7 linked regions of the Homo sapiens genome follow. The protein of the gene in region 6 interacts with the protein of the main gene of each other region in a pairwise test. Each region holds a gene or a part of one and is shown on either strand. Other genes may lie near its edges. The genes, in order: MGARP, IQSEC1, EVL, IQUB, SEPTIN2, TOR1A and CLEC2B.

Region 1 (4,469 bases), on a different chromosome or scaffold from region 6:
TTTAATGGTAAGATGATAGATTTCTAAAATTTATTTATATATAGTGTCTTCTAAATTTTTAACCATCAGAAACCAAGTACCTTATTTAAAAATTGTACTACTTAATTACAAACAATTTTACAGTGTAAAAATTATGCTGTGAAAATAGAATGTCTGTAATGTCGGGGCCGGGTGCAATGGTCCACACCTGTAATCCCAGCACTTTGGGAGGCTGAGGCCAGCGGATCACCTGAGGTCGGGAGTTTGAGACCAGCCTGACCAACATGAGAAATCTGGTCTCTACTAAAAATACAAAATTAGCCGGGCGTGGTGGCGCATGCCTGTAATCCCAGCTACTCGGGAGGCTGAGGCAGGAGAATCACTTGAACCCTGTAGGCAGAGGTTGCAGTGAGCCGAGATCGCACCATTGCATTCCAGCCTGGGAAAGGAGGGAAACTCCGTCTCAAAAAAAAAAAAAAAAGAAAGAAAGAAAAGAAAAGAAAATCTGGGTCAAGCCTGTAATCGCAGCACTTTGGGAGGCCGAGGCAGGCGGATCATGAGGTCAGGAGATGGAGACCATCCTGGCTAACATGGTGAAACCCCATCTCTACAAAAAGTACAAAAAATTAGCCAGGAGTGGTGGCGGGCGCCTGTAGTCCCAACTACTCGGGAGGCTGAGGCAGGAGAATGGCGTGAACCCAGGAGGTGGAGCTTGCAGTGAGCAGAGATCGTACCACTGCACTCCAGCCTGGGCGACAGAGCGAGACCGCGTCTGAAAAAAAAAAAAAAAAAAAGAAAAGAAAATCTATAATGTCGGGTAGAAGTGATGTAAAGTGACCCTTTTATAGCAAACTTCCCGGGGTTTAGTGAACTCAGACTTGAATCATTTGGCTTTGAAACATACAGAGCAAATATGATCAACGGGAATGATAATCAACATTTTCTGTATAAAAGCAAGGAATATTTTCCGAGTAGGGTGTGTGTTCCTGACACCTTGTAGGACCAATATGATAAGTCAGTATCCCCAGTTCTCAGTACACAAACCGAACCAGTACACAAGTTCACATCCCTGAAAGGATCATTCCAGGAACAACATTCCAAGGGACATTAGTCTCATTGCTCAAGGGGCTAAAACACAAGGCAAGAAAAAAGACTAACTTTAGGGAGAATTGAAGAGATACAATACTAGAATAATTCACCCTAATGTGTGGCCCAAAGAATCTAGGTTTTCCAAATCCAGCACAGTCGAGCACAGAGTAGAATAAAGGCCTATTAAAAGAGAGGGTCTCAAATTTAGACTTTGGCAGTTATTTACAAATGATATTAAGTATTTATTAAGTATAAGCATTTAAAATATACTACAATTTTTATAAGCCAGTCTGGTACTACTTTTTAAGATATACCAGACCAGGCCGGGCATGGTGGCTCACATCTGTAATCTCAGCACTTTGGGAGGCCGAGGCGGGTGGATCACCTGAGGTCAGGAGTTCGAGACCAGCCTGGCCAACATGGTGAAACCTCATCTCTACTAAAAATACAAAAATTAGCCAGGCGTGGTGGCAGGCGCCTGTAATCCCAGCTGCTCAGGGGGCCGAGGCAGGAGAATCGCTTGAACCCGGGAGGCGGAGGTTGCAGTGAGATGAGATTGCGCCATCGCACTCCAGCCTGGGGGACAAGAGATACCCAGACCCTCAAAAAAACTGGAGTGATCTGGGCCTCTTTCAGATTCCAATGACCCCTAATAGTCGAGGATTTTGATTGCAAATGGAAAACTGCTTTTGGCTACTAAGCATCTGTGGGGTCAATTCATAAAAATCTAATATAGAGATTATTTTAGTACAGGACATGAAATGGAAGGGGAGAACAAGTATACAGGTTTTGGAGTGCCTTACATTCAGCATTTCCTCCTGAAAGTAGCCTAAGATTCCTGGCAATTAAGGCTTCCAACATTTGAGATTAAAATCACATAAACTTAGAAATGGAAGGGAACAACTTCCATCCCTACTGTGAGAGAACAAGGCCAGAAAGGGTTCTCAGGGATGGCTGGTTTATAAATGTATAACCTTTTAGTTTAAGATTCCTTTTGCAACCAGTGAGTTAGCAGTCTGGCAAAGTTTGTTTTTGGCACTGGTACATATTAATATAATCAGGGGTATAGTGATGTCCAAATGAAATTCATCCTTCTAGCTTCCCAGCCTATCACATGGCCTAGTCTCAATCTCTGTTTTTTTTTTTTGGTGGCCTACACCTCAACTAGAGTGGGTTTGAGCCATGAATTCAACATTAAACAGTAGAAAGATGACAGAACAAAGGAATCTGGGCACAAGTGAAAGCTGGCAGATTAGTAGAGGACAACAATATAAGTGACAAGTTTGCAGTTTCCTGACTCCTTGAGGCTCTCAAAATTCTGAAGATTATGACTAGCCTTAAAAAAATTTCTAGGCCGGGCTTGGTGGCTTATGCCTGTAATCCCAGCACTTTGGGAGGCCGAGGCAGGAAGATCACGAGGTCAGGAGATCAAGACCATACTGGCTAACACAGTGAAACCCCGTCTCTACTAAAAATACAAAAAAAAATTAGCTGGGCGTGGTAGTGGGCACCTGTAGTCCCAGCTACTCAGGAGGCTGAGGCAGGAGAATGGCGTGAACCCGGGAGGTGGAGCTTGCAGTGAGCCGAGATTGCATCACTGCACTCCAGCCTGGACGAGAGCGAGACTCTGTCCCCTCCCAAAAAAAAAAAAAAAAAAATTCTGAGGATTAGAATATGTATTTTGGTTTGGTTTGGTTTGGCCATCTTACATAGTCCTATGAAACTGCTTCTAGTTATGACTAAACATCTCTTTATTCATATTTCTTTTTTTTTTTTTTTTTTTGAGACGGAGTCTCACTCTGTCACCCAGGCTGAGTGCAGTGGTGCAATCTTGGCTCACTGCAACCTCCGCCTCCCCGGTTCAAGCAATTCTCTGCCTCAGCCTCCAGAGTAGCTGGGATTACAGGTGCCCGCCACCACGCCCGGCTAATTTTTGTATTTTTAGTAGAAATGGGGTTTCACCATTTCTTGACCAGGCTGGTCTTGAACTCCTGAACTCGTGATCCACCCACCTTGGCCTCCCAAAGTACTGGGTTTACAGGTGTGAGCCACCGGCCCGGCTTTATTCATATTTCCGTAGGTCCAAACCAAAATATAGTGACTGTGTACTCTTAGAGTTTACAAAGAATTTCTGCTTATTCTACTTTTATTCTTTACATTTTTTGTAGAGATGGGGTCCCGCTATGTTGGCCAGGCAGGTCTCAAACTCCTGCAAGCAATTCTCCTGCCTTGGCCTCCAACGTGCTGGGATTATAGGCGTAAGCCACCACTACAGGCTCTACTTTTATTCTTTTTTATTTATTATTATTTTTTTTGAGACAGGGTCTTGTTCTGTTGACCAGGCTTGAGTGCAGTGGTGCAATCTCAGCTCACTGCAGCCTTAACTTCCCAGGCTCAAGCGATCCTCCCATCAAAGCCTCCCAAGTACCTAGGACCACAGGCACACACCACCACGCTGGGCTAATTTTTTTATTTTTTATTGTAGAAATGAGGTCTCACTGTGTTCCCCAGACTGGTCTCAAACTCCCGGACTCAAGCCTCCCAAAGTGCTGGGATTACAGGCATGAGCCACCGCATTACTTTTATTCTTTTTTTTTTTTTTTTTTTTTTGAGACAGAGTCTGGCTCTCTCACCCAGCCTGGAGTGCAGTGGCACAATCTCAGCTCACTGCGACCTCCACCTCCTGGGTTCAAGTGATTCTCCTGCCTCAGCCTCCTGAGTAGCTATGATTACAGGCACCTGCCACCATGCCTGGCTCATTTTTGTATTTTAGCACAGATGAGGCTTCACCATGTTGGCCAGGCTGGTCTTGAACTCCTGACCTCAGGTGATCTGCCCACCTTGACCTCCCAAAGTGCTGAGATTACAGGCGTGAGCCACCATGACTGGCCTACTTTTATTCTTAATAAAGATTATATTTTGATTTAGAAAGTTTATGACAAAATGGTGAATGACTCAAGTCTTAACTTACTTAACTAAAAAATGTCTGTCATTTTAGTCCCAAAATCTCACTATTAAAACCTTTGTCTTACAGGGTTTACCTGGAGGGAATGGACATGGGGACTGGGAAGGAAAATATGCTTTTCACTTTATATATGTCTATGTTGCATTTTTTAGAAACTTATGAACAAATATGAATTTTTCAAATAATAAAACTGTGTGAAAATTTAAAACTAACAAAAATTATGGAGACAGTAAAAAGATTGGGAGGAGAGAGGGAGAAATGAGTAGGTGGAGTAGAGGGATTTTTAGGGTGATGAAACGACTCTGTATGATACTATAATTTATTCTGGATGATATTGTAATATATTTGTAAAAACAGAACATACAACGCAAAGAGTGGATCCTAATGTAAACCCTGGACTTTAGTTAATAATAATATATCAATATTGGCTTGTCAG
Region 2 (3,912 bases), on a different chromosome or scaffold from region 6:
TGGGGAGCCTGGCTTTTAAAAAAGACCCGAGAATTGATGAGTCGGAGACACCAGGGCGCTTCCCTGACAGCCCAGCCTGGACCCAATCACACGGTCCCATGCTGTTTCTTTCTGAGCAGACACCAAAGAAATGCCACGCCAATGGGAGGACACAGGTGGGCGGGTTAAAGTCACATTTTTAAAAAGGCTAAACTCTAGATTGCTGTATTTGCTCTCTCTGGAGATTAACAAAGTGCTTGGTTTGCAGATTTGCTGGTACGGTGATCTCAATGATATGACCGAGGGTGGGAGGGATGTGAGGAGGGAAATCGGCAAAACCCTGGCCAGCCAGCCAGCCAAGGTGACACACAGCCAGAGGGGGCTCCCCTCTCCTCCTGCCGTCCGGCCACGGCTCACCACGCTGTCCACTGGGAACGCGGCCCCGCGGCCCGCAGAGTCAGGCGTGAGCTTCGCCCTTTCTGAAAGGGCCTCCGCCTGGGCAGGCGCCGGGGGGCAGTCCTCGGGTCCCATGGCTTAGGAGCACAGCACTGACGGCTGCAGTGGCTCGAAAGGCTGAAACTACAAAGTATGGCCCGTGGGTGACTCGGGCACAGACCTGCCGCGTGCAGGTCTGGCCCTGGGGAGCGCATGGTGTCACCACAACACAGAAGCGACAAGAGCACAGCTGAGAGTCATGTGATGCCCTGGCAGCTCACTGGACCATGGGAAGGCAGCGGGGGCTCCGCCGGGCACTCGTCGGCTGGGGTCACACGGGCCACGGTGAGGACACAGGGGTTCTGCTAGCACATGGCTACATGGAATTACGGTGATCACTGCTACCACTCAGAAAACAAAACGGGAAACACACACACCGCCCTGGGTTGCTAAACGCTAAAGTCAACCTTCAGGTTCGAGAGTGGTTCCTGATGAAAACACTCTCTGAGGGCTTCGGCCTGGTGTGGGTTGGAGGCGGGATGAGGACGTTATGGTGTTGGGGAGACGAGGATGAGAGCTGGTCACTTTCATGTTGGAGATGAACACTTCTGCCGTGTATGGGTGCCCCTCTCGGAGGACTCTGAATGAGTGTGCGTCAAATCATATGCGCATAAAAGAAACATGGATCATGGAGAGTCACAGTTATCGCAGCCATTAAAGTGTCTAAGAATCCGTGTAACCAATGTCCTAAGACAACCAGCTTGTAACCAGCTGTCCTGAGTTGCTACTGTAGAGTGTACTGCAGTTTAGCTATTTGCTTACCTGAAATAACAGCATTATAATACTATTTATGATAGTATTCTGTTAATAAAATAAGGATTTATACAAAGCAATACTGGACTTTTTAAACAGTTAGATGCTATGTTACTTGGCACAGTTAGTAATGATTGTGTAAAGATTTTAGCCAGTCCTAGAGGGACTTCTTTGTATGAAAATATGAAGTATCTGAATTTGTTCCTAGCATTTAGGGTTTGGTCTATTGTCTCACACACCCAGCTAAGGTACTGTCTTCCTATTAGGTAAGTGGAGCTCCTTGTAAGGTGGGTATTGCTAATGTGGACTGAAACGCCTGCCTTTCACACACAAGTACTACCTATACAGTATATATATATATATATTTATATATTTATATATTTATATAAAGTTTACTTACGTATTTTCATCAACCATATCAGGTCTACTTATTTTTTTGCCCATTGTCAATAAAAGAGCAATAATGCAGCAAGTTTTGGGGTTTGTTTTGTCTGTTTTTGTATCTCATTTCTTCGTTTTCTAGGTTGGGTTTTCATATGCATGTACATTAGGGCACAGGGAGCTGAGAGCTGGAGTGGGGGAGGCAGTTCAACACTACTTGGCTGGCTCACCGTTTCAAGGCTGATGGTGTCTGAGGCCCACCCATCCCTCAGACTGAGGTGAGCAGAGCCCAGGGTGCCAACAAGAAATGAAATCTGGGCCTTTGTTCCACACAACACCAGCCCTGTGGGCTCCTGGGGCTCCGGTTGGGCCGTGAGGGGCAGAGGGGAGAGATGGCAACAGAAGTGCCCCGGGTTTGGTGTGCGGCTGGCGACCCCCGGGCGTGCCCTGTGTGGTGTGCAGGTGTTTCAGGGAGCCTGGGACCCCTACCCAGGCTGTCTACACAATTGTGCTGATGCCGCTGGGTTTGGCCTTGCTGCTGGTGGGGGGCGGCGGGGCAGGGGGCTGCCCATGGTGGTGCACTGTGTGCCCCACGTGGGCCGAGGGCAGCGGCGGGTGGCCGTGGGCATGGGCCCCGTAGGCTGGGTGGCCCCCATGGGGGCCGTGGTGGTACTGGTGTGCGTGCTGGATGTGCTGGGGTGGGTGGTGGTGGTGGTGATGGTGGTACGGGGGAGGGTTCTGCATGTGGCAGTACTGGGTGTGATGCCCGTGCATGGCGGCCTGCGGCAGCCCCTCTGGGGGCCCCAGGTGGTGGCCAGCCACAGAGTGCTGCAAGTGAGGCAGGACCACCGGTGGGTGGGGGGGTGGCAGGGCTGGGGCTGAGGGCAGGTGGGCCTGGGGAGGGGGCTTCCCTCTCTTGCTCCCGAATAAGGAGCCCAGGAGGGAAGATGAGTTGGGCATAGTCTGGTGTGGGCGAGATGGACACTCTCGTGTTGATGTAGCTCTCCGGCGCATGTGAGGACTGCTAATGATGGACCCCTAAAAAGGAAATTCATAGAAATCAAAATTAAAAGATCTTCAAGCACTTAGGTCAGAATGATTTTTTTTTTTCAAATGTAAAAATTCACCCACTGACTGCTAAGCTTTAGTTCAACTCACTGGCCAGAGGGTGGGGCTCAGTGAGGCTGGACTGGGCCCCGCCTCCTCTCACTACAGTGCAGGGCAGCTGGGGGTTACTGGCCTTGACCAAAGTGGGGAGTGAGGGCAGGGGAGGGGCCCATCTCTCTGACCACCACGGCAGAAGTAGGACTTCTGGTCTCATTCTGACAAGCACTTTGGCCCTGGCAGCAGCCTGAGATTTCAAATTGGAACCCCTAGGTTGGGGTGTCTGTGCGCTGTGTGTGGCGAGTGCAGAGGGGCTGATGTGCCTGGAGGAGGAGCCCTGCTCCTGCTGAAAACAGGGCCCTCAGCTCTCCTGGGACTGCTCAACTGGGCTGAGGGCATGTGCTCCGCCCATGTGGGTCCTGAGGTCTCGGGGGAGGTGGTGACAGGGACAGGTGGGGCTCAGAAACCTTGTCCTCTGGGAGAATGGGCTGCCTAGGCATTTCACTACAGCTGCCTACTACAAACCAAACAAGGAAAAAGAAGGTAACAGAAAAAGATCTGCAAGCTGAGGTAGAGATGTGAACAGTAATACAGAGATGGCCGGAGGATGAGTGAAATATCATGAAATCCACACTGAATCTCTTTCTCTCAAGACACTCCTCCTCCCACAAGCTAAGCAATTCCATGGTGTCCTGCCGCAGACACACAGCAATCAAACTCCAAGAAGAAAGCGATGAGGATGGGCGGGCGTGGAAGTCAAGGGTTCAGCAAAAACATCCAACAGCAAGTGTGGAGGGTGAGTGGGAGCCGGGTGGCCCGGGCGGGGGTGCCGGAAGCTGGGGATGGTCAACCATGCTCAGGGACCACAGGTGATGGGGTTAAGCAGAAACCAAAACACAAAATCCAGAACCACCCCCACTGTTGAGTCCAAAACAAGCGGTGAGAGGCATGGATATTTCTAGGCACAGAGGAGAAGCTGACATGCACAGGGTTCCAGGCAGGCAGGGGCAGGGAGTGGGTGTCTGCATCTCTGTGCAGTAGGGGAAGGAAAAGCCAAAAAAAAAAACAACAAAAAAAAAACCAAAAAAAAAAAAAAAAAAAAAAAACCAGGACAACAGATATGAACTGAGGACTGGGGAAGGCGACACAGGACAGCCAGCTGGACAGAGGCGCTTCCTACTTACTTCCACATTGCTCTCT
Region 3 (4,469 bases), on a different chromosome or scaffold from region 6:
TGGTTTTTCAGCATCAGGAACATGCCACTGATTAAGTAATAAGAGTAATCCTTCCACTTGATGAAGCAGAATGCACAGCATTTGAGCTGTTGACAGGCGGCCACCCAACCTGATGTGTCATTCTGATCTGAAGCAAAGAACCTCTCCCTTGTCACCGTGGGCAGAGGTCTTTGCTTTGTCTCCTCTGCTCACTACATCCCCACACGAGAATCAGGAACGCCCTGCGTATCTGTGTGGTGAACGAGTAAGTCCCGGGAGGCTCTGGTCGAGAGGCAAAAGCAGGTGCCAGCCTGCAGGTGCTGGGATGAGGTTCTCAGGCCTCCTCATTTTAAAGACAGCTGAATAACAGATTATGTCAATCAACACACACATGTGGGGGCCACGATGAAAGCGATACAGGGTGACATCAGAGTCACTAAAAAATTATCATCTTTTCTTGTATGTTATTTTTTTAAAACCCTCCCTGCTTAAAAGGGAAGTTATGCTTTGACTCTAGGCTGGGAAAGAGGTGGCCGCAGCACTCCCAGGCCCTGGGCACAGAGACTTGCACCCCACCTCTGGCAGTCGCACAGTCTGTGAGGCGGCCATGCCTGGGTGCAGGTTTTCAGGTGGTGGAACTGGTCCTCGGAGCAGTAACTCCATTGGCCCAGGGCCAGCTCTGCCATGGCAGAGGGCCTGCCCAAGTCACCGGACTCCACATTTGGGGCTCTTTTCGTCTTTCAAATAAGCCTTCTTTCTTCTCTGTTAATGATAAACTTAGTGCATGTTCACTGCAGAGAATTGGGGAAATACCAGGAAGCATGAACAAGAAAACGAGTGCCGGCCATCAGCCTCTCTCCCTCCCACTGCACTTGTGTGGTGTGTGGATCTTCTGAAGGCCCTGCTCTCTTTAGACGCTAGTCCTGGGTATGAGAAGGGACCATGGCAAACAAGAACCAGCTGTAGCCAGGGGCCTGTGAAAAACAAGACAGAAAAGATGGGGGTCTGAGGAGGAGAGTGCTATCCTTGGGGTTGAAGGTTTCAAGAATGTTCCTCTTCCAGAAGCCCCTGGGCTTTGAAATCCATTCTTCTTAGAGCTCCAGGAGCGAGAGTTTTAGTTTTCAGGGGCTGGGACTGCAACATACTGGCACCTGACTAAGAAAGGCCAGCGATGTCTTCAGATCCCCAGGGCTGTGGCTGGAGCGAGGCCACAGTATTTTGATGTCTGTGATTATCCCGTGGCCTGCAATTTCAGAAATTCATGGCAAGTCAGTTGGCTAAACTCCACAGCATGTGCAAGGTATGGGAATGGTGGACGTGTGAGAAGCCCAGGCCTCGCCCTCCAAGGGCCTAAGATCTGGCAGGAGACAACGAGTCTCCACAAGCAGTCGTGCCTGTGCAGAGGGCCTCGGGAGAAGACCGGGGCTGGGATCAAGTAGTGAGGAGCTTTGTGAGGCCTGGGGGTCGGGAGGCTGTTTTTTTGTTGTTGTTGTTTGTTTTGTTTTTGAGACGGAGTCTCGTTCTTGTTGCCCAGGCTGGAGTGCAATGGTGCGATCTCTGCTCACTACAACCTCCGCCTCCCAGGTTCAAGCAATTCTCCTGCCTCAGCCTCCCGAGTAGCTGGGATTACAGGCATGCGCCACCATGCCCCGCTAATTTTGTATTTTTAGTAGAGATGACGTTTCACTATGTTGGCCAGGCTGGTCTCAAACTCCTGACCTCAGGTGATCCGTCTGCCTCGGCCTCCCAAAGTGCTGGGACTACAAGTGTGAAGTGTTGAGCCGGCCGGGAGGCTGTTTTTTAAGGTGTAAGGGTGATGCAGGGAAGTGCAGGCTGAATGGGAGTTGGCTGGTGGGGCAAAGGGACCCATATGTGCCCAGGACGGGGCTGAGAGGCGTGGATCAGCTGGGAGGGCTATAGCCTCAGGGTAACACCAGCATGACCCTGACTGATGGGAGGACAGGGCAGGAAGCCTGCTCTGGTCCCTGGCAGTTTTATTTCCTCTCTGATTCTGCACTGAGGTGGAACCTTCAAGGCATTTGTAGTTAAGGCTAAACTTAGCCCTGTCAGTAGGAGTCTTTTTATAGGAAAAGCTTAACATGGAGGAAAAGAGAATTAGCCGCCCTAACTGGAAGCAGATGTTGGGAGCTCTGGCAGCCAGGCTGGCTCTGGGCTGCCTGGTAAGGACAAGAGCCAGGGGTCCAGGGCTCCTTTGCCACAGCTCACCTGAAGCTCCTGCTGGAAGAGGAGTCTTTAGAAACAGAAATAATTTGAAAATAAAAACCTCTCTGGGCTTCTGGCAGACGTGCCCCTCTGCAGTGTACTCCTGGAGTCCCAGTCCCGCCGAGACCCTGGCTGGTCTGTGCTCCCCGGGGCTCCTGGGAAGGCGAGGTAGCCCTGCGGTGCAGCGGCCAGCGCCTCAGGCTGCAGCTCCAAGGGTGGAGCAGTGTCTGGTAGGGGGTGCTCAGTGAGGGCAGGCCTGCTGCTGGGGCCAGGGTGGCGCAGGGACAAGCACCGCAGAGACCCTCCGCCCCTCCTGTGAATCACCTGATGAAGCGCCCATCCCACGCATGTCCCAAAGGCCTCGCCTGAGACCAGAGAGCCTCCCTGGCGATGCGCTCATCTCAGTGGGGAGCCTGAGGGTGGGGCGGGCTGCTTGCTCACCATTTGGCTTTCATCTTCCTTCTTCTCGGCTGGCTTGTCTGACTGGGAGGCTGCTTTTCTCCTAGGCACAGAGAAGGGGAAGATACAGATCAGCTCCTCACGTTCTCTCACTGTCCCAGAACTCTTCTGCCTCCACCCTGCCAGACTCACCCCGGTCCTCAGATAAACCTGTGTGGGAAAACGATGGCGTGAAGGAGGCGGCTTGTCTAGGCCCCGTCTGGTGAGGAGCCAGGCCCAGGCAAATGTCCAGGCCCTCCGTGTGGTCATGGCCTGGGACACAAAACTGGTCTAGGCAGAGAGGGCGAGATGCCTCTATGTCTGTTTAGCTCTACTGGCAGCAGCTGTAGCATCTGAGGCGTGGAGGGGAGGCGGGCACGCTCTGTCCCCAGGACACTGAAGGCCTGGCCACACGGGACAGAGAGGCATCTCTCTGGGCTGCAGTCTGTCCCACAGGTCGGGACACTGGACACTTTCTTGTGTCACTCTAAGGCCCTTGTGTCTTGGAACTCAGTTAACCCAGCCACGCCCTCCCCAATCTAGAATGCCACTCAGAGCCTGGAAATGCTCAGAAGAGGAGCCCTGGAATAGGTCCACGTGACGCCCTTGAGTCGGTTCGTGCACCTCCCCAGTATGAATCCCCGTTTCATGTACTCTAAAACCTCACCCATATTTTTTGGCCTCAGTGGTATCTGCTGACCTCCCAGGTCTACAGAGGCAGGCAGACCCTCAGTGTTTCCCAGAGATACGCTTCTGTGGCTTTTCAACTTGAGATGAGCTGCCCATCAAGCATGGAGCTGGTCTGAGGTGTGATAATGGGCCGTGGCCAGGCTGTCACCTGTCTGTGATGGGCCTACCTGGCAGCCTCCTCAGCTACAGCAGGGGCCCCCTTCTTTAGCTCCCATCTCAGGACAGGTCTGCCCACCTCGTCCCTCAGCCCAGAAACCAGGGAATCATCCCTGACACCAGCTTCTTATAACTGTCAGCCTGGTCAGTTCTCTAAATCTGGGTACCTGCCTGTCTTTTTTGTCTTCACCTTCAACACCTTCCTGCATGCCCCTATCATCTCTTCCTGGACTGTCAGAGTCTCCTAACTGGCCTAGCCACGATCACTTACACCTCACCAGCTACCCCCCAGCAGCCAGTGTCCCATCTCCTAGAAACAGAACGCTGACCAAGCCACCTGCTCACGGGGAGTGTAGGCGGGATGAGTGTCTGTGAAAGTGCTGCTGAACAGGAGCTTTCTGTCCACGTTCATTTCCCTCCTGCCCTCCACTGTTGGGAGACTCAACTGCATGCCCTCAGAGGCGGGAGACAACCTACATGAAAAGAAACCTGGCAAGGGCACTTTCATCGTCGGCTCCACCCAGTAGCCATCACTGAGGTGGATTTCAGAGAGCACCTGATTGATCCCTGCTGAGCTATGCAAAGCATGTTTGTTCTTGGGAGGGCCTTGACTCTCCCACCGGCATCTGGCATCTCACTGGCTCCTGGCAATACTGGCCTTTTCCTGTTCTCAGACAGAAAGGTGCTTCCCCTCAGCTTGGTCTAGGACTTAGGGAAAGCATTCATATTTTCTTTTCCAAAACTATTTCTATTTCTCTGTGGCCCATCCTCGCCTCTGAGTGCTCTGAGGTGGAACCCGATGCCCTGCACCAGGAGGCTCCCTCTTCCAGCCTGACTTTTGGTCCATTTCCTCCACACCTAGCTCTCCAGGCACAGGGGGCGTCAGCCTTCCCAGCCTTACCTTAACTCTGCCCACTGTCCCTCTTACAGCACGGGACGTCCTCATCGTTCTGCGAGCCCTCCCGGCTCTCTCACCCACGGAG
Region 4 (3,791 bases), on a different chromosome or scaffold from region 6:
CAGTATGCTAATTTTACCTGAATATAATCTTAATAATACTATAATGTTACCATAATAAACATATGGTATTGAATGATCTTTAAAATTCATTAGTAAGTACCATCTTAATTTCAGGGCCATTGTAGGGACCTTTTAAAACCTTTTACTGCCATTTTACAAATGAGGAAGCTGAGATTTTTTTTTTTTAATATGGAACACTTCACAAGTTTGCATGTCATCCTTGTCCAAGGGCCATGCTAATCTTCTCTATATGGTTCCAATTTCAGTATATGGGCTGCTGAAGCAAACACAGGAAGTTGAGATTTAATAAAGATAAGTAATTCACTTAGTGTTAATTAAAAGACTTGGTTGTTTTAATCAAAAAGAGGGGTAATGAAATAGCTGTTTAAAACTTTTTAAAAAACGTAAATCTTATCAGCTAAAACTCTTGGAATGACTTTTTATCATGGGGTCTGCATTATAAATTTAGAATTGCCAGAGACGGACAAACTCAACAAAGTATAAGCATGTAAAAAGAATATTTTTTAAAAAAGCTTCTGTGAAAAAGTGTGAGAGCAGAAATATTTTCTGTAAAATGAGTACACAAAACCTAAACAATCTGCCAAAGTAAAAAACAAAAAGAACCTGTCATCATCAGCTACAACAGTATTTCATAAATTGGTAATTCAATATATTAAGCTCAACTAATGCATTCTAGCTTTTACTTAATGCTAAAAAAGACAATACTCTGTACACAGCTGCTATGAAAAATAAATTTATAGACCTTTAAAATTCAATGTTTTATATATTTTACTTACATTCAAAATGCATCTTGTTTACATTTTTGTTTTTAATTTAGTTGCTCAACTGTACTAATAATTTTGAAATTGTATCATACAGAATAACGTGTTTATTTGCATGTAAATGTCAAATGTGCACATAAGTGTGGTTGACAGTCTCTAAGAGCTTTCTACCTTTCAAGTAGTCATTGTACTTGAAATTTTTGCAGTAACAGAGCAATACTATTGCCTATTATATTAGGCAGTATTTGTATGCATTACAGATAAACGAGGTGACTAGTACAACACTCAAATCTCTTGTCTAAGCAGAATGTTTACTTTTTATATATATTAACTTTCACCTTTTCATTTTACATGGCATCATGTTCACATTTAACATATGCTAATCTTTGCTGTTGTCCACAAGATTTACTATTTATGAGAATGTTCAAACATTCAAATTATGCCTCAAATACTATTACTGAAATAAATATTAATCAAAACTACACCAATTACAAGGGGGGGGAAGCTACTGGACACTCATATTTGTCTGCTAATCCTAGACATTGGAAAAGTAATAGACCAAAACCCTACATAGATACGGTACTGAAATTAAATCACATCTAATGGAGATTATCCTTATCTGAAAGGTTACAATGCTCCCCTAGAATTTTTTCATTCAATATGTGTAATGGTTGATTTTACATCAACTTGATGATGCCACCGGATACCCAGATATTTGGTCAAACGGTATTCTGGTGTTTATGTGAGGGTAGTTTTGGATGAGATTAACATTTAAGTAAGTCAGTAGACTGAGTAAAGCAGAGTGTCTTCCATAATGTGAGTGGGCTTTATCCAATCAGTTGAAGGCCTGAATAGAACAAAAAGTTCACCCTGTCCCCAAGTAAGGAAGACTGTTTCTGCCTAATGGCCATTGAATTGAGACACTGGCTCCTCCTGGCTCTATAGCAGCCTGCTGGTCATCAGACTTGAACTGGGCCATCAGCTGTTTAGGTTTTAGACTTACCAGCCTCCACAATTATGTGAGCAAATTCCTTGTAACAAATCTCCTTATATGTATATATATATAACATATATGTATAACATTTTCTATTGGTTCTGTTTCTCAGGAGAAATCTGACTAATACAACATGGAATATTGAGCCAGCACTTCTTGGTGACTTACATTAAAGCCCTAGTACATCTAAGATTCTCTACAAGGAAATATACATCTGTCATGTCAATAATTCCTGAATAAAAGTAGCAAATAAGAATTTAAGCTGAAATAAACATCAAATTTATTAACAAAATATTCATTCTATTGGACAAAATATGTAATCATTTTAATTTGTGCTTTTCAAACTGTGGGTTGCTACCTCTTGGGTGATACCAAAGTTTTCCAAATGGAAATCAGAATAAGTAGACTGAGATTGAATAGAAAATATCAGAGTACATCCATAGGGGTAAAGATAAACACTATTTTGGAAACTTTTATTTCTGAGGCAGAACAGCATGTGTTTACATGTACGGATGCTGGGAATCAGACTGCCTAGTTTTCAATCCTGGTGCTGGTACTTAGTAGCGTAAACTTGGACAAGTTAGTTAACCACTCAGTGCTTCCCTTTCCTCACCTGCAGAATGGAAATAATGCCTATTTTGATAGGATTTTTGTGCTGATTAACTCAATAAAGTGTGTAAAGCCATATAGGTACTGAGTATTGAGAATTATCATGCATGCCTATATCAGGTTGTCATAAAAATACATTTTTACTATAGATTGAGATTTAAAAGTTTGAAAGCTATGGATTTAGAAGAATTTTTTAACAAAGCACATCACATTTGGTATCTTTTTTTTAATCTCTATAAAGTTTTCTATTCATAGTAGTGCCTACTTTCCTATTTGGTATTAAATACAATTTAGTTCATTTTAATTAGTAACTAATTTACAGAAAATTTGCCCTTATTTGACAGTCTGTGAACACAAATATCATTAATGAGGTCAATTGTGCTCTATAATATACTTTTATTAATAAGTGGCTAATGTTGGGTAGCCATATCAACAACAAGTAAGTCCTTCTGTTTTCTCACTTGCTTACCTAAGTCCAAACAGTGTCAGGAATTTGTTTTTATTTTGTAGAGACACAGACTATCCTCTGGCCTAAACCCAATAGAAGACATGGAATAACCAAAGAGACCGAAGTAGTGGTTAAGTTAGGAATTCAGGTCAGAATTCCTGATCTCACAGGCTCCACCCTCTCACAGAGCTAGAAGTTCTTACGAGAAGCAGATTACGTAGGGTCAATGATCCAATGCAATGATTCATCCAAAAGAACTCTGGCCAGAAACTTTCCAGTTGTGTGGTATCATATCAACACTTTACATAGACAAGTATCAAAGCCTTTCCCTAAGGTTTTTTTTTTTTTTTACTTTCTATAAGCCTTAGCTTTCACTTTTGGTGTTATTTACCATTATGGTCACATTTGGTTTACACTAATTATTACTGTTATTCGTAAACACTAGTATGTGTATATGTAACATCAGTTTCTGTAAAAGTCATTCATTCATTCAACAAATATTGAGGGCCTTAAATAAAAACTTGGTACTGTATTAGGTTATAGAGGTATAATGGTGAGCAGGAGGGAAAAAAAGCATACTCCTGCCCTCACAGAGCTTACAGTCTAGTGGAATAGAGAGTCATTAAACAATCACACACACACACACAAACATACATAAGATTGCAAGATAGCCTCCTTGACAAGCTTCAGCTATAATTGGCACCCCTTATTGACCATACCTGCATCAAGAAAGCAATTTTAGAATCATCTTCATAATCAGCTTCTGTATAGTAGAGCTGTTGAAGTAAACATTTGTACTTCAAAAATGATTCTCGTTTTTGAGCCTCATTCTGAAGGTTAATGCAGTTACGACACCGGTATATGCGGCGTGAGGTGGATGATACAGAAAATTCTGTAGAAGGCAAATAAAGCTGGCAACTGTGGCAAAAGTAAATCTTCTTATAAAATTTCAATGGGT
Region 5 (4,469 bases), on a different chromosome or scaffold from region 6:
CTCCAGAGTGAGTAATTTGAGAAGAGGCAAGGTGGGGGGCCATAATGCCTTTTATGACCTAGTCTTAGAAAATGACAACACTTTCATCTCCACAATGTCCTACTGGCTACACAGGTAAAACCCTATTCAATGCAGGAAGGGACAAGAAAGTTGTGAATACCAGGAGATAAGAATCACTGGGGGCCATTTTGGAGCCTAGCTGACACAATGAGTAAACTTTCACTACATATAAATAAGAAAGTGACAGAAAAATAATTTTGCTCCTGAGAAAAATTTTCTAATGAATACACATATATTTGTTCAAATTCTCAAGTTATTTGACTCTGCCAAATTTTCCTCTTTCTTTATAGGTCACGTTATCATACTCCAGAGATTGGAAAGGGGAGATATTTATTTAGTAAGTTGGAGACTATAGATTAATTTCTTACCGACCACCATCAGTGTGAACTCAAAACCTTTTTTCACTGATTTTCGGTGAACTTGATTGGGGAGGTTTGCAAATCCAACATAGCCAGGTGTTTCTGGATTTATAAACTGAGTTGGCTGTTGCTAAATAAGATTAAAAAACAAACAAACTAATAAACACCTTAGTAGTTGCTTTTAAGATATAATCAGTTAGACATGAAACAAACATAGGTTATCAGTTTTCACAAATTTTTTAAAAAGTATAAACACTTCCAGAAGGTCATACTTCTATCAGAAAACCAGTAGTATTCAACTAGGAGCATTAAAAAAAGAAAAACTTATCTAGTATAACTCCTTAGTTGTATGCGACTGAAAATTAACATTTTGTTAATCAGTATTCTGTTTAGGAATTTAACAATACATAGAAGATACATGCTTAATACATCTTAATGCAATTTCAAATTTCGACTTGAGAGACTATGGAGTTCCAGGAAAATCAGTCAAGCTTACAAAGTACTGCTACAGCTGACAGTACTTTGAATGAATGGTTTCATTCAACAAACTTGGCTAAAGAATAGCTTCTCCCAGGTATTAGGTGCAATGCATTTCTGAAAAGTATCGAGGAAAAAAGCATCTCTCTTGCTGTGCTTCTAGCTCTATAGAACAGAGTTTCATCAAGGGTGAGGCAGGCAAATTAGGGGTGGGATGTTGAGTATCTAGTGTCAAAGACCAAGAAAGAAAAGACAGAATGAGAAGATCATAGATGACTACACTGAAGCATCAATATTCCTTGACAGAAGGGTATCTGATGAGAGAGAGGACAGAGATATGAGAAGGCAAGAATAGCAGAAGTAACCAGAATCTAGACAGTGGCATACTGAAAATGAGAAGAAATTTTAAAAATCAATTTATTAATTGAAAAAGGCAAGATACAAAATAGTATTTCCTTTAGGATTACATTTTGTAAATGTATAGTCAAATGCACACACAGGTGAAAAAGAATATATGTAACATATTAACAGTGGTTATTCCTGAGTGGTGAAATAATGACTTTTTTTTTTGCTTATCTGTGTTCCATGCTAACACTGGTATAAAATGCAAAAACTGGTATGATGATTTTGCATTGGACAGTAATGAACACCCACAGGATTCAAAGATAAAAAAAAAACAGAAATAATAATCTTGCAATGTTAACCACAAGTTCTGCTTTTCTCAGAATATGTTCTTTAGCACTAATTTATCTCTGAACTAACTTGCAAAGGCTGATTTAAACCAATTTATCAAGTCTAAGAGCCCCATCAATTTCATCATAATAAATTATCAGAATTCTAAATTATCTGGTCTGCTGGGAATGAACTAAGGGGGCCAAAAGGACTGTTACTGATGTGTGTAGAGAAAAGAAAGTAGAAGCCTGAAAAAAGAGAAAGCTCCAAGCTTTTAAGATGACAATTAGGCCAGGCACGGTGGCTCACACCTGTAATCCCAACACTTCGGGGGGCCAAAGCGGGTGGATCACGAGGTCAACAGATCAAGGCCATCCTGGCCAACACGGTGAAACCCCGAATTTACTAAAATCCAAAAAATTAGCCAGCGTGGTGGCACGTGTCTGCAGTCCCAGCTACTCCGGAGGCTGAGCCAGGGGAATCGCTTGAACGTGGGAGGCAGAAGTTGCAGTGAGCTGAGATCATGCCACTGCACTCCAGCCTGGTGACAGAACAAGACTCCCGTCTCAAAAAAAAAAAAAAAAAGACAACTAAATTAGAACTCTTTGTGTTAATGAATCAAATGTATCAGTTGTATTAAAAATAATGAATCATATAAGTCCCGACTGTCAACAGTCTGAAAACATAAAGCAATTTCTCCTTATGCTGTAGATACATGAAGTATGATCTTACCTTAGACATCTTTTGTGAAGCTTCGTCTGTTAAAAAAAAAACACACAGACACACATAAACGCACATACATAGTATGTATGTATACGCACGTATATTTAACAGCGTGAACTGACCTGAAGAAGACTTACACATACATAGGCAATGTAAAAAGAAAATACAATTTCAGGACCTTCCAAATGCATTAGGCCAAAGGGAAAAGTTAAGCACTGACAGCTGGCTCGTGTAACATCACTACTTTTATTCTTTCTGACTTTTGTGTTTAGATGTATATATTAACCAGACCCCCTATTCTTTATTCAAAACTAGACTAAATGACTGGGAGATGAGAGATCCTTATGACTGTTACTTCTTTACAAAAGGAAGTTAAACAAATCCCTTCAAGTGTAATCAATAGTAGCCAATCAAATTTGTATCTTTAAATGAGCCTTAGTTCCGAAAATGTTATAATTCTGTTTGGCACCTCCATTTTGCCTATATAAACAATCCTCATTTTTCCCCACCCTGGGAGCGCTAATCACCATTCTTTGGTGTAGCTCGCTTACACTCTGTACTTAAATGAATTCTTTTAACTGAATCAGGAGCCTTTTGATTATTTTAGGTGACAGCATCTCAATTACTTCAAATATTTCCCTAGGAATAAGACAAGCATCTATCATTACAAAAATAAATTCGATTAAAAAAATTAGGCCAGACGTGATGCTCACGCCTGTAATTCCAGCACTTTGGGAGGCCGAGGTAGGCAGACCACTTGAGGTCAGGAGTTCAAGACCAGCCTGGCCAACATGGTGAAACCCCATCTCTACTAAAAATACTGATTCAGCCAGGCATGGTGGCGCTTGAGGTCAGGAGTTCAAGACCAGCCTGGCCAACATGGTGAAACCCCGTCTCTACTAAAAATACTGATTCAGCCAGGCGTGGTGGTGCGTGCCTGTGATCCCAGCTACTCAGAAGGCTGAGACAGGAGAATCGCTTGAACCTGGGAGGCGGAGGTTGCAGTGAGCCGAGATCATGCCACTGCACTCCAACCTGGGCAACAGAGTGAGACTCCATTAAAAAAAAAAAAAAAATTAGATGGTGGCTGGGTGCAGTGGCTGACGCCTGTAATCCCAGCAGTTTGGGAAGCAGAGGCAGGACTGCTTGAAGCCAAAAATTCAACACCAATCTGGGCAACATAGCAAAACCCTATCTCTACAAAAAATTAAAAAATTAAAAAAATTTTTAAGTTGATAAAAGCAACTGTATATATATATGTACGCACATATTCCATATTTTCAATAATATTCAAATTTTTTTTCAGTACTGACTATATGTTAGACACTAGGGACACAAATGGGATACACACGGATACATACTTCCCTGACCTCTGGAATTATGTCATTTCCCCTCTCTCTTTGAAACCTTTCAAGGAGTAAGGGACTTCATTACATAGAGCACTGTAACTTGAACATGTTTGCCACCCACTGGAGTTTCCTAGAGCTACCTGAGAACTAGATTTTGACACTGGGGTACAGAGAGCAATGTGAACTACATTTATGAGGAAAGGAAATAGTACTGAAGGCATCTGAGTGTCTGAAAAATGTGACAATATTTTTAAAGATATGTGGAATTTTTTTTTCTCTTTTCTTTTTTTTTTTTTGAGACGGAGTCTCGCATTGTCTCCCGGGCTGAAGTACAGTGGGTGATCTCAGCTCACTGCAACCTCCACCTCCTGGGTTCACGCCCTTCTCCTGCCTCAGCCTCCCGAGTAGCTGGGACTACAGGCGCCCGCCACCATGCCCGGCTAATTTTTTTTTAATTTTTAGTAGAGATGGGGTTTCACTGTGTTAGCCAGGATGGTCTCGATCTCCTGACCTCATGACCCGCCCGCCTCAGCCTCCCAAGGTGCTGGGATTACAGGTGTGAGCCACTGTGCCCAGCCAGAGATATGTGGAATTTTTAAACAAATTTTAGAAACCCTGAAGCTTTGGAAAGCATGGAGTCTGTTGGCTAACCTTCAGTAACAACCCCAAGAAAGATGACTGCTGTCAAATTTGGTTCCCTCTGGAGCTTAGAAACTTATTAAAAAGCTTCTCTCACTTTGCCTCTCGATTCCCCTCCCCCAAATCTTAACTTCCTGAATACTGTGTCCTCTGTTTCCCTTTTGACTGGAAATGTTCCCAGCTACTTTGG
Region 6 (4,469 bases):
ACTAACAGGTCATCTCTCCCCCTGAGCTGCCCACGGCATCCTTCCTTGCTCAACCACTGGCTCTTTCTTCTACAAAGAAAATCATGTAGCTGAAGAAAATGGGGGAACTGGCCAGGCGTGGTGGCTCACGCCTGTAATCCCAGCACTTTGGGAGGCCGAGGCAGGCGGATCACGAGGTCAGGAGATAAGACCATCCTGGCTAACATGGTGAAACCCCGTTTCTACTAAAAATACAAAAAATTTGCCGAGTGTGGTGGCAGGTGCCTGTAGTCCCAGCTACTCGGCAGGCTGAGGCAGGAGAATGGTGTGAACCTGGGAGGCAGAGCTTGCAGTGAGCCGAGATCGCGCCACTGCACTCCAGCCTGGGCAACAGAGCGAGACTCCATCTCAAAAAAAAAAAAAAAACAGCAGGCCAGGTATGTAGCTCATGCCTATAATTCCAGCACTTTGGGAGGCTGAGGCGGGAGGATGACTTAAGTCCAGGAAGTCAAGACCAGCCTGGGAAACATAGGAAGACCCAGTCTCTACCAAAAAAAAAAAAAAAAAAAAAAAAAAAAATTAGCCAGGCATGGTGGCGCAAGCCTGTGGTTCCACCTACATGGGAAGCTGAGGCTGGAGGATCACTTGAGCCTAGGAAGTCAAGACTCCAGTGAGCTGAGATCACACCACTGGACTCCAGCCTGGGTGACAGAGTGAGACTCTGTCTCAAAAAATAAGCTGAGCACAGTGGCTCACGCCTGTAATCCCAGCACTTTGGGAGGCCGAGGTGGGCGGATCACCTGAGGTAAGAGTTCAAGACCAGCCTGGCCAACATGACAAAACCCCATCTCTACTAAAAATACAAATATTAGCTGGGCATGGTGTGCACCTGTAATCCCAGCTACTCAGGAGGCTGAGGCACAAGAATCGCTTGAGCCCGGGAGGCAGAGGTTGCAGTGAGGCAAGGTTACGCCACTGCACTCCAGCCTAGGTGACAGAGTAAAACTATCTGAAAAATAAAAATAAAACAGCACTTGTCAAACATTAGTGTTCATAAAAGTTACCTGGAGTTCATCAGCAAAGATTCCCCTCATGACTCGGAAGGGGACTGAGAATCTGCATTTCTTTCTACCCAGCTCCCAGGTGATGCTGACAGTGACCCTGATGCTTTTAACACTTAGGGTGCAGGATTAGGAACCAGATGGGACTGGCGGTGGATGGCCCTACTCACTGTTCTTGTTATTGAAAACCGACACAGACAACGCGTGTTCAATGTCTTTGAGCTTGATGTCTTCCCTCTGCTTTCCACTCCTCCAGAAATCCAAAGCCACATCTGTGATCCTTTCTGCTCCAGCATTGCTGCAAAACAATCCCAGTGGGTAAGGACAGGGTTTTCTCCTGGAGCTCAGAGGCTTGGGCTCGGGGCCCATCCATCATGTCCTAGCCCTGACCTTACCTGAGAAATATGAACATGGCTTTCTGGTAGGAGACCCCATCCACCAGGTCATAATAGTCGAGGAAAGGCTTGATGGCATCTATGAGGCCTGCATGCATCTTATCCATTTCATCAAATATGAAGATGGACCTCGCACAGGCACTCACGTTGCCTCGAATCCACAACTGTAACTGATCCTGAATTAAAAGGGGAAAAAGCGAACACAAAGTTCTCAGCCAGGGCCATCAATCAGCTCCTTCTACCACTAAGAACCGCAGCTTCACTTACAGACCACTGTGCACTCGGCACTAAGAACTTTACATGCCCAAAATCTTCTTTGTTCCTACCAACCCCATGGAGTGGGCACTATCGTTCTCATTTTACAGATGAGGGAACTGAGGCACAGAGAGCGCTTACTCCACTTGCCCAAGACTATATGTGGCAGAGCTGGGACCTGAACCCAGTCCTGTCTCACTCCAAAGCCCGATACTTTGGTTACGGTTCCCGCACTGCGAGATGCCACACGGATGCTGTCAGAGATGCTGCTCTTTTGTCATCAAAGGGGCAATGTGGGATGTCATGAGGATACTGATTTTTATTTAAAAAGGGGGTGGGGTCGGGCATGGTGGCTCACACCTGTAATCCCAGCACTTTGGGAGGCTGAGGCAGACGGATAAGTTGAGGTCAGGGGTTTGAGACCAGCCTGGCCAACATGGTGAAACCCCATCTCTATTAAAATACAAAAATTAGGGCCAGGCATGGTGGTTCATGCCTGTAATCCCAGCACTTTGGGAGGCCAAAGTGGGTGGATCACCTGAGGTCAGGAGTTCAAGACCAGCCTGGCCAACATGGTGAAACCTGGTCTCTACTAAAAAAAATACAAAAAAATTAGCTGGGTATGGTGGCAGGTGCTTATAGTCCCAGCTACTCAGGAGGCTGAGGTAGAATTGCATGAACCTGGGAGGCGGAGGTTGCGGTGAGCCAAGATCAAGCCATTGCACTCCAGCGTGGCGACAGAGCAAGACTCCATTAAAAAAAAAAATACAAAAATTAGCCAGGCATAGTGGCAGGCGCCTGTAATCCCAGGTACTTGGGAGGCTGAGGCTTGAGAATCGCTGGAACCTGGGAGGTGGAGGTTGCAGTGAGCTAAGATCACCCCACTGCACTCCAGCACTCCAGCCTGGGAGACAGAGCAAGACTCCGTCTCAAAAAAAAAAAATAATAATAATAATAAATAAATAAAATAAAATAAAATAAATAAATAAAATAAACAAGGATTCACTCAGACCTGTTAGGCTCCAGCAGCCAAGGTTTCTCACTCTGGTGACCAAACTTATATGCAATAACAGGGAACATGCACTGAGTGTTCACTATGGGAACAACAATATTCTAAGCACTGTTCATATAACTTTTTTTTTTTGACAGTCTCGCTCTGTTACCCAGACTGGAGTGCAATGACATGATCTCAGCTCACTGCAACCTCTGCCTCCCAGATTCAAGCGATTCCCTTGCCTCAGCCCCCTGAGTAGCTGAGACTACAGGCACCTGCCACCACGCCCAGCTAATTTTTGTATTTTTAGTAGAGATGGGGTTTCACCATCTTGGCCAGGCTGGTCTTGAACTCTTGACCTTGTGATCCACCCGCTTCGGCCTCCCAAAGTGCTGGGATTACAGGCGCGAGCCACCACACCTGGTCTGTTCATAGAACATTTTACTGTGACCTCCCAAAACCCATCACGGTAGTTACCATTGTGCTCCTTCTTTTACAAATGAGAAAACTGAGGCACAGACAAGTGAAGTAACTTTGCCCAAAGTCACAGTTATTGTTAGTGAAGCCTCAATTCTAAGATGATCAACTTATCCTGATTCGTCTAGAATGGTTCTTGTTTGTTTGGGACAGGGTCTCACTCCGTCACCCAGGCTGGACTGCAGTGGCTGTCTGCTCACTGCAGCCTCGACCTCCCAGGTTCAAGCCATCCTTCTGCCTCAGCCCCCTAAGTAGCTGGGACTACAGGTGCATGCCACCATGCCTGACTAATTTTTTTGTATTTTTTTAGTAGAGATGGGGTTTCACCATGTTCCCCAGGCTGGTCTGGAACTCTTGAGCTCAAGGGATCAGCCGGTTTTGGCTTCCCGTAGTGCTAGAATTATAGGCATGAGCCACCACACCCGTGGAACATTCGCATTTTAGTACAGAACCGCTGGACAGTGGGTGACCCACACGCTCACCCAGACAGAAGGGAAAAATGTGTTCACATTTTTCCATAGATACAGTCAGGGATAAATAACTGATTGAGGCCAGGCATGGTGGCTCATACCTGTAATTTCAGCACTTTGGGAAGTAGAGACAGCTGGATGACCTTGAGGTCAGGAGTTTGAGACCAGCCTGGCCAACAAGGTGAAACCCTGTCTCTATTAAAAATACAAAAATTAGCTGGGTGTGGTGGCAGGTGCCTGTAATACCAGCTACTTGGGAGGCTGAGGCAGCAGAATCACTTGAATCCGGGAGGCAGAGTTTGCGGTGAGCCGAGATCAAGATCCAGATGGTGCTACTGCACTCCAGCCTGGGTGACAAGAATGAAACTCAGTCTCAAAAATAAATAAATAAATAATTGACTGTTTTGCCCATCTTGCAGGTCTGCTACAAGGATCTAAAAGGCAACAGTTAACATTTATTTGTAACATGCACCAGGTACATGTTATGCACTTGACAGACAGAGCTCCCTGGATTGTTACAAGCAACACTTTGTAAGTCAGAATCTGAGTCTCAGGTCAGGCAACTTTCCTAAGACTACGGAGCTGGGAGAGTGTTAGGACTCAAATCCAGATGTGTCTGCTGCCAAAGCCCAAGCTGCTCATCAGTGAGTTCAACCATAAAAGCTGTTTGCGGCTGGGCAAGGTGGCTCACGCCTGTAATCCTAGCACTCTGGGAGGCTGAGGTAGGCAGATCACTTGAGGTCAGGAGTTCGAGACCAGCCTGGCCAATGTGAGGAAACCCCATCTCTACTAGAAATACAAAAATTAGCCGGCTGTGGTGGCACATGCCTGTAGTCAC
Region 7 (4,469 bases), on a different chromosome or scaffold from region 6:
AGAATTAGACTTCCATATCCATGAGGACTCTCCCTGCAATCTTTCCGGTACCCAAGGGCATGGAAACATCATTTCTATACTGGAAAAAGTGAGATCAAGATGGATAACCAGCTTCCCCACCAGCTTGAGTTTCCTGGCAGGAAACTTGCCCCTGCCTTAACACTTGGGAAGCATCGGGGTGCCTGAACGAGGACAGGCAGAGACAAAGTGGGGAGGCAGGACTACCATCCCCAATACCAGAAACTGTGCTCTGTTACTTGGCCAAAGGAGATGTCAACTTAGAGTGGCTGTCGAGCAGCATCATGGTATAGGAGGTTTGTTGCACAGGTCCCCTGGGCTGGAACACCTCGTCAGTCTTCCCACACTACTGGGATATCCCCTTTGGAAGCACCCTCATTTGGTATGAGTGGCACTCTAATTGTTTACTAGAACCAAGGCAAACCTGGGTTAAGGCACCATGTAGTCATAACAAGGAGGCCGAAACCTAGCTGCCGCCCCCCACCCCCAAAAAAATCGACAGGTAAATTACAAGGAATATTTAAACAAACATATTCAATGTAAACCAAAACAAGCCATATAAAATCCTTCAACACAAAGACATAGATGCATATCCATAAGAAACAACAGCAAACAGGGAACTGCGATACCCCTAAATGGACAAAGTCGGAATCAGAGACAGATCTTAATGAAATGGCAATATGTGAGCACTTGTACCAAGAATTCAAAATAGTAGTTTTAAGAAAACTCACTGGTCTCTAAAATAACACAAAAAACAATTCAGAAATATATCAGAGGAATTTAACAAAGGGATTGAAATAATTTTTAAAAATCAAAAAGTGATATTGGAACTGAAAAATACATTTGCTGAACCGAAAATTTTATTAGCGGCTCTCAAAAGAGAATGGATCAAGAAGAAGAAATAATCGGTGAGCATGAGGATGGGCTTTTGAAAATACACAAGGAAAGGAGAAAAAAAGAATAAAAAGGAAGGAAGAATGCCAACATCTTGTAGAAAATTACTGCAAAAGACCATATCTAAGAATTATTGGTGTTTAAGAGAGAGTCAAACCAGAGCAAGAGGTAGAAAGCTTATTCAAAGAAATAATAACAGAAAGTATTACAAAGCTTGAGAAAGAGATAAAGATTCAGGCAGATAAAGGTCAGAGAACACCAAACAGATTCCGACCCCAACAAGACTACCCCTAGGCATAGAATAATCAAACTCTCAAAGGTCAAGGAAAAAGAGAGGATCCTAAAATCAGCAAGAGAAGAGAAGCAAATAATATTTAAAGGAGCTCCAATTTATCTGATGATAGACGTCTCAGTGGAAACCATACAGACCAAGAGAAAAGTGATGACATTTTTTAAGTGCTGAAAAAAAAAAAAAACCCTGCCATCTAAGAATACCATATCCTGCAAAGCTGACCTTCAAATATGAAGAAGAGACAATGTTTCCCAGACAAACAAAAACTGAGAGAATTCACCACCACCAGACATATCTTATAAGAAATGCTAAAGGGAGTTCTTCAACCAAAAAGAAAAAAACACACGAACAGAAAACAGCTGAATATCTAAAATACACTGATAAAATTAAGTGTATGCACAAACCCAGAATACTCTAATACTGTAATTGTGGTGCACAATCTTCTCATATCCCTAGTAATGAAGACTGGAAGATAAATCTATCAAGAACAATGATAACTGCAGAAACCAGTTAAGAGGTAAGCAATAAAAATATGTGAATTGGGAAAACTAAATTAAAAATGTGTGAGGGTGGAGTAAAAGTGTTTTTTTCCTTTGTTGCTATTCTTTGTGATATAAGTTGTTATCTCTTTAAAATAACTTGTTATATCTATAAGATTTTTTATAAGCCTCATAGTAATCACAATGCAAAACCTATAGTAGAGTCATTAAAAATAAAAAGCAACTAATTAATATATACCACCAGAGAAAATTATATAACCCCAAAGAATGACAGTAAGAAAAGAAAAAAGAGAGAAATTTAAAAACAACCATAAAACAAGCAACAAAACAGCCCCAGAAAATCCTTACTTAACAATAACATGGAATTTAAATGAACTCAACTCTCCAATTAAAAGACATAAAGTGCAGGCCGGGTGCAGTGGCTCACGCCTGTAATCCCAGAATTTTGGGAGGCCAAGGCAGGCAGATCATTTGAGGTCAGGAGCTCAAGACTAGCCTGTCCAACATAACGAAACCACATTTCTACTAAAAATACAAAACTTAGCTTGGTGTGGTGGTGTATGCCTGTGATCCTGGCTACTCAGGAGGCTGAGGCAGGAGAGTCGCTTGAATCCAGGAGTTGGAGGCTGCAGTGATCTGAGATCATGCCACTCCACTCCAGCCTGGGCAATAAAGCAAGACTCTCTCAAAAAAAAAAAAAAAAAAAAAGCATAAAGTTAAAGTGGCTGACTTGGTAAAGAGAAAACCCTAACTGTATGCAGCCTACAGGAAATCTGCTTCACCTATAAAGACACACAGAGAATGAAAGTGAAGGGGATGAACAAAGATATTCCATGCAAATAGAAACCAAAAAAGCCGGAGCAGCTATACTTATATCAGATAAAATAGATTACAAAACTTTAAAAGACTACTTTAAAAAGAGACAAAGGTTACTATATAATGCTAAAGAGGTCAATTCAGCAAGAGGATATGACAGTTCTAAAAATCTATGGACCCAACACCAGATCTCCCAAGTATATAAAGCAAACATTCATTGATCTAAAGGGAGAGATAGACTGCAATGCAATAATATTGGGGGACTTTAACTCCTCACCCTGAGTAATGGACAGATAATCTAAACAGGAAATCAACAAGGAATATTGGAGTTATACTGCACACTTTACCAAATATATCCAACTGACACGTACAGAAGCACTGCTGCAGAATACTCATTATTTTTATCAGTACATGGAGCATTCTCCAGAACAGACCACATTGTAGGCCAAAAAACAAGTCTCAATAAATTAAAAAAAGTAGAAATCTAATCAAGTATCTTTTCTGACCACAATGGGATGAAACTAGAAGTCAATAACTTGAGAAACCTCAGAAACTGCACAAACATGAAAATTAAATAATGTGCTCCTTAACGACCAAAGAGTCAATGTTGAAATTAAGAAAATTTTAAAAATTTCTTGAAACAAATGAAAATGGAAGCACAATAAACTAAAATCTGTGGAATGCAGAAAAGCAGTACAAAGAAGGAAGTTTATAGTAATAAATGCCTTTAAAAAAAGGTAAAAAGACTTCAGATAAATAACCTAATGATGAACTTAAAGGATTTGTAAGAGCAAGAACAAACCAAACCCCAAATTAGTAGAAAAAAGAAGTGTTAAAAAATCAAGCTCTTTCTGATGAGGTTTCTTATCTTTCATATATAACCTTATTAATATCATGAATTATTTATTAATTTTCTTTAAACCTCAGGTATCGAAAAGACAGGAAGTTTTTTCTCTGTTTTCAATGCCATGAATCAAGTAAATATGTCAGTATGTCATTCCGTTTTTCTCCCCATGAATTGGCATAATGTAAAAATATAGATGTTAGAGATATCATGATTTCAAAATCTTGATCAAACCTTTGTGGCATGTAATTGTATTTTCTTACCCCCATTTGATCCTATACTCTTCATCCATTAACTAGTACCACTTCTATTTTTTTTTAAAGAGCATATGTGTGTTGTGTTTTTAGAAAGTATAGTTACAACAGGAAGTAAATAAAAGGTAACTTTTGCTATTATTTTTTTCTTGTGTTATAGTTGTCCTGTTTTTAAATATTTTAATTATTTTGTGTGTGTTAAGAGTGTAAAGATTATTTACATTTGCAGCAAGTGGAAGTATTTTTTGAGTCAATTTCATATCTGTTATTTGAAGGAGGTAGTCAGACCATTTTGATATTCTTTCTTCCAGAATGACTGTTGAAAAGAAAACCCTAAGCTGCTTAAATCAATGGCCTTTTCAATTAAAAAAAAATCTAGCTTATTGAAGTAATGTTTCTGAAAATTGTGAAGGGATTTTAAAAAGAGGAAATAACTTCGAGCTAACAGGTAGAGAGAAGGGCAATGCACATCCTGACAATATGAGAAATGACAATTTGCAGATACAGCGGAAAATAGGAGCCCTTTCCATTGCAAAGTTGGCAAGGTATTAGAGTATAAGGACTTGGTGGTGTATACAGAGTTGGTAGATTTTACGTACAGATGACCCCAGCTTCAAAAAAGATGATCGTACTTTAAATGTGGCAAAGAAACAGTGTGGCTTTTGTTATGAGTTCAGCACAAAATAGCAGAGCTAGACCCGAAGAGGTCATTTATATTGGAACATGGTCTTCTCAGGTGTAATCAGTGGAAACTGATGAATGGAGACCATTATAACACTTTGGTGTCTTATACAACCTGGGAAACTTCATATAACCTTGGAAGAAATCTCTCACTCTCAATACCACCAAAT

Evidence for each region.
Region 1: the proteins of TOR1A (region 6) and MGARP interact in binary tests that used the Homo sapiens proteins (3 or more experiments, as listed by UniProt).
Region 2: the proteins of TOR1A (region 6) and IQSEC1 interact in binary tests that used the Homo sapiens proteins (3 or more experiments, as listed by UniProt).
Region 3: the proteins of TOR1A (region 6) and EVL interact in binary tests that used the Homo sapiens proteins (3 or more experiments, as listed by UniProt).
Region 4: the proteins of TOR1A (region 6) and IQUB interact in binary tests that used the Homo sapiens proteins (3 or more experiments, as listed by UniProt).
Region 5: the proteins of TOR1A (region 6) and SEPTIN2 interact in binary tests that used the Homo sapiens proteins (3 or more experiments, as listed by UniProt).
Region 7: the proteins of TOR1A (region 6) and CLEC2B interact in binary tests that used the Homo sapiens proteins (3 or more experiments, as listed by UniProt).

The regions. Positions count from the first base shown.
Region 1 is NC_000004.12:139,269,855-139,274,323, forward strand, and holds part of MGARP (protein MGARP), read right to left. Parts: intron 1-4,469. UniProt on the Homo sapiens protein: Plays a role in the trafficking of mitochondria along microtubules. Regulates the kinesin-mediated axonal transport of mitochondria to nerve terminals along microtubules during hypoxia.
Region 2 is NC_000003.12:12,898,877-12,902,788, forward strand, and holds part of IQSEC1 (IQ motif and SEC7 domain-containing protein 1), read right to left. Parts: coding exon 3,897-3,912; intron 2,647-3,896; coding exon 2,107-2,646; 3' UTR 559-2,106; coding exon of another isoform or gene 514-558; 3' UTR 1-513. UniProt on the Homo sapiens protein: Guanine nucleotide exchange factor for ARF1 and ARF6. Guanine nucleotide exchange factor activity is enhanced by lipid binding. Accelerates GTP binding by ARFs of all three classes.
Region 3 is NC_000014.9:100,130,954-100,135,422, reverse strand, and holds part of EVL (ena/VASP-like protein), read right to left. Parts: exon of another isoform or gene 2,705-4,469; coding exon 2,644-2,704; intron 2,377-2,643; coding exon of another isoform or gene 2,264-2,376; intron 1,223-2,263; coding exon of another isoform or gene 1,135-1,222; exon of another isoform or gene 1-1,134. UniProt on the Homo sapiens protein: Ena/VASP proteins are actin-associated proteins involved in a range of processes dependent on cytoskeleton remodeling and cell polarity such as axon guidance and lamellipodial and filopodial dynamics in migrating cells.
Region 4 is NC_000007.14:123,457,805-123,461,595, forward strand, and holds part of IQUB (IQ motif and ubiquitin-like domain-containing protein), read right to left. Parts: coding exon 3,553-3,791; intron 1-3,552. UniProt on the Homo sapiens protein: Adapter protein that anchors the radial spoke 1 (RS1) complex to the A microtubule of outer doublet microtubules in axonemes. The triple radial spokes (RS1, RS2 and RS3) are required to modulate beating of the sperm flagellum.
Region 5 is NC_000002.12:241,322,073-241,326,541, reverse strand, and holds part of SEPTIN2 (septin-2), read right to left. Parts: intron 2,327-4,469; coding exon of another isoform or gene 2,310-2,326; coding exon 2,301-2,309; intron 550-2,300; coding exon 429-549; intron 1-428.
Region 6 is NC_000009.12:129,817,310-129,821,778, forward strand, and holds part of TOR1A (torsin-1A precursor), read right to left. Parts: intron 1,612-4,469; coding exon 1,436-1,611; intron 1,339-1,435; coding exon 1,211-1,338; intron 1-1,210. UniProt on the Homo sapiens protein: Protein with chaperone functions important for the control of protein folding, processing, stability and localization as well as for the reduction of misfolded protein aggregates.
Region 7 is NC_000012.12:9,862,790-9,867,258, forward strand, and holds part of CLEC2B (C-type lectin domain family 2 member B), read right to left. Parts: intron 1-4,469. UniProt on the Homo sapiens protein: Membrane-bound protein expressed on myeloid cells which acts as a ligand to stimulate the activating receptor NKp80/KLRF1, expressed on the surface of natural killer (NK) cells.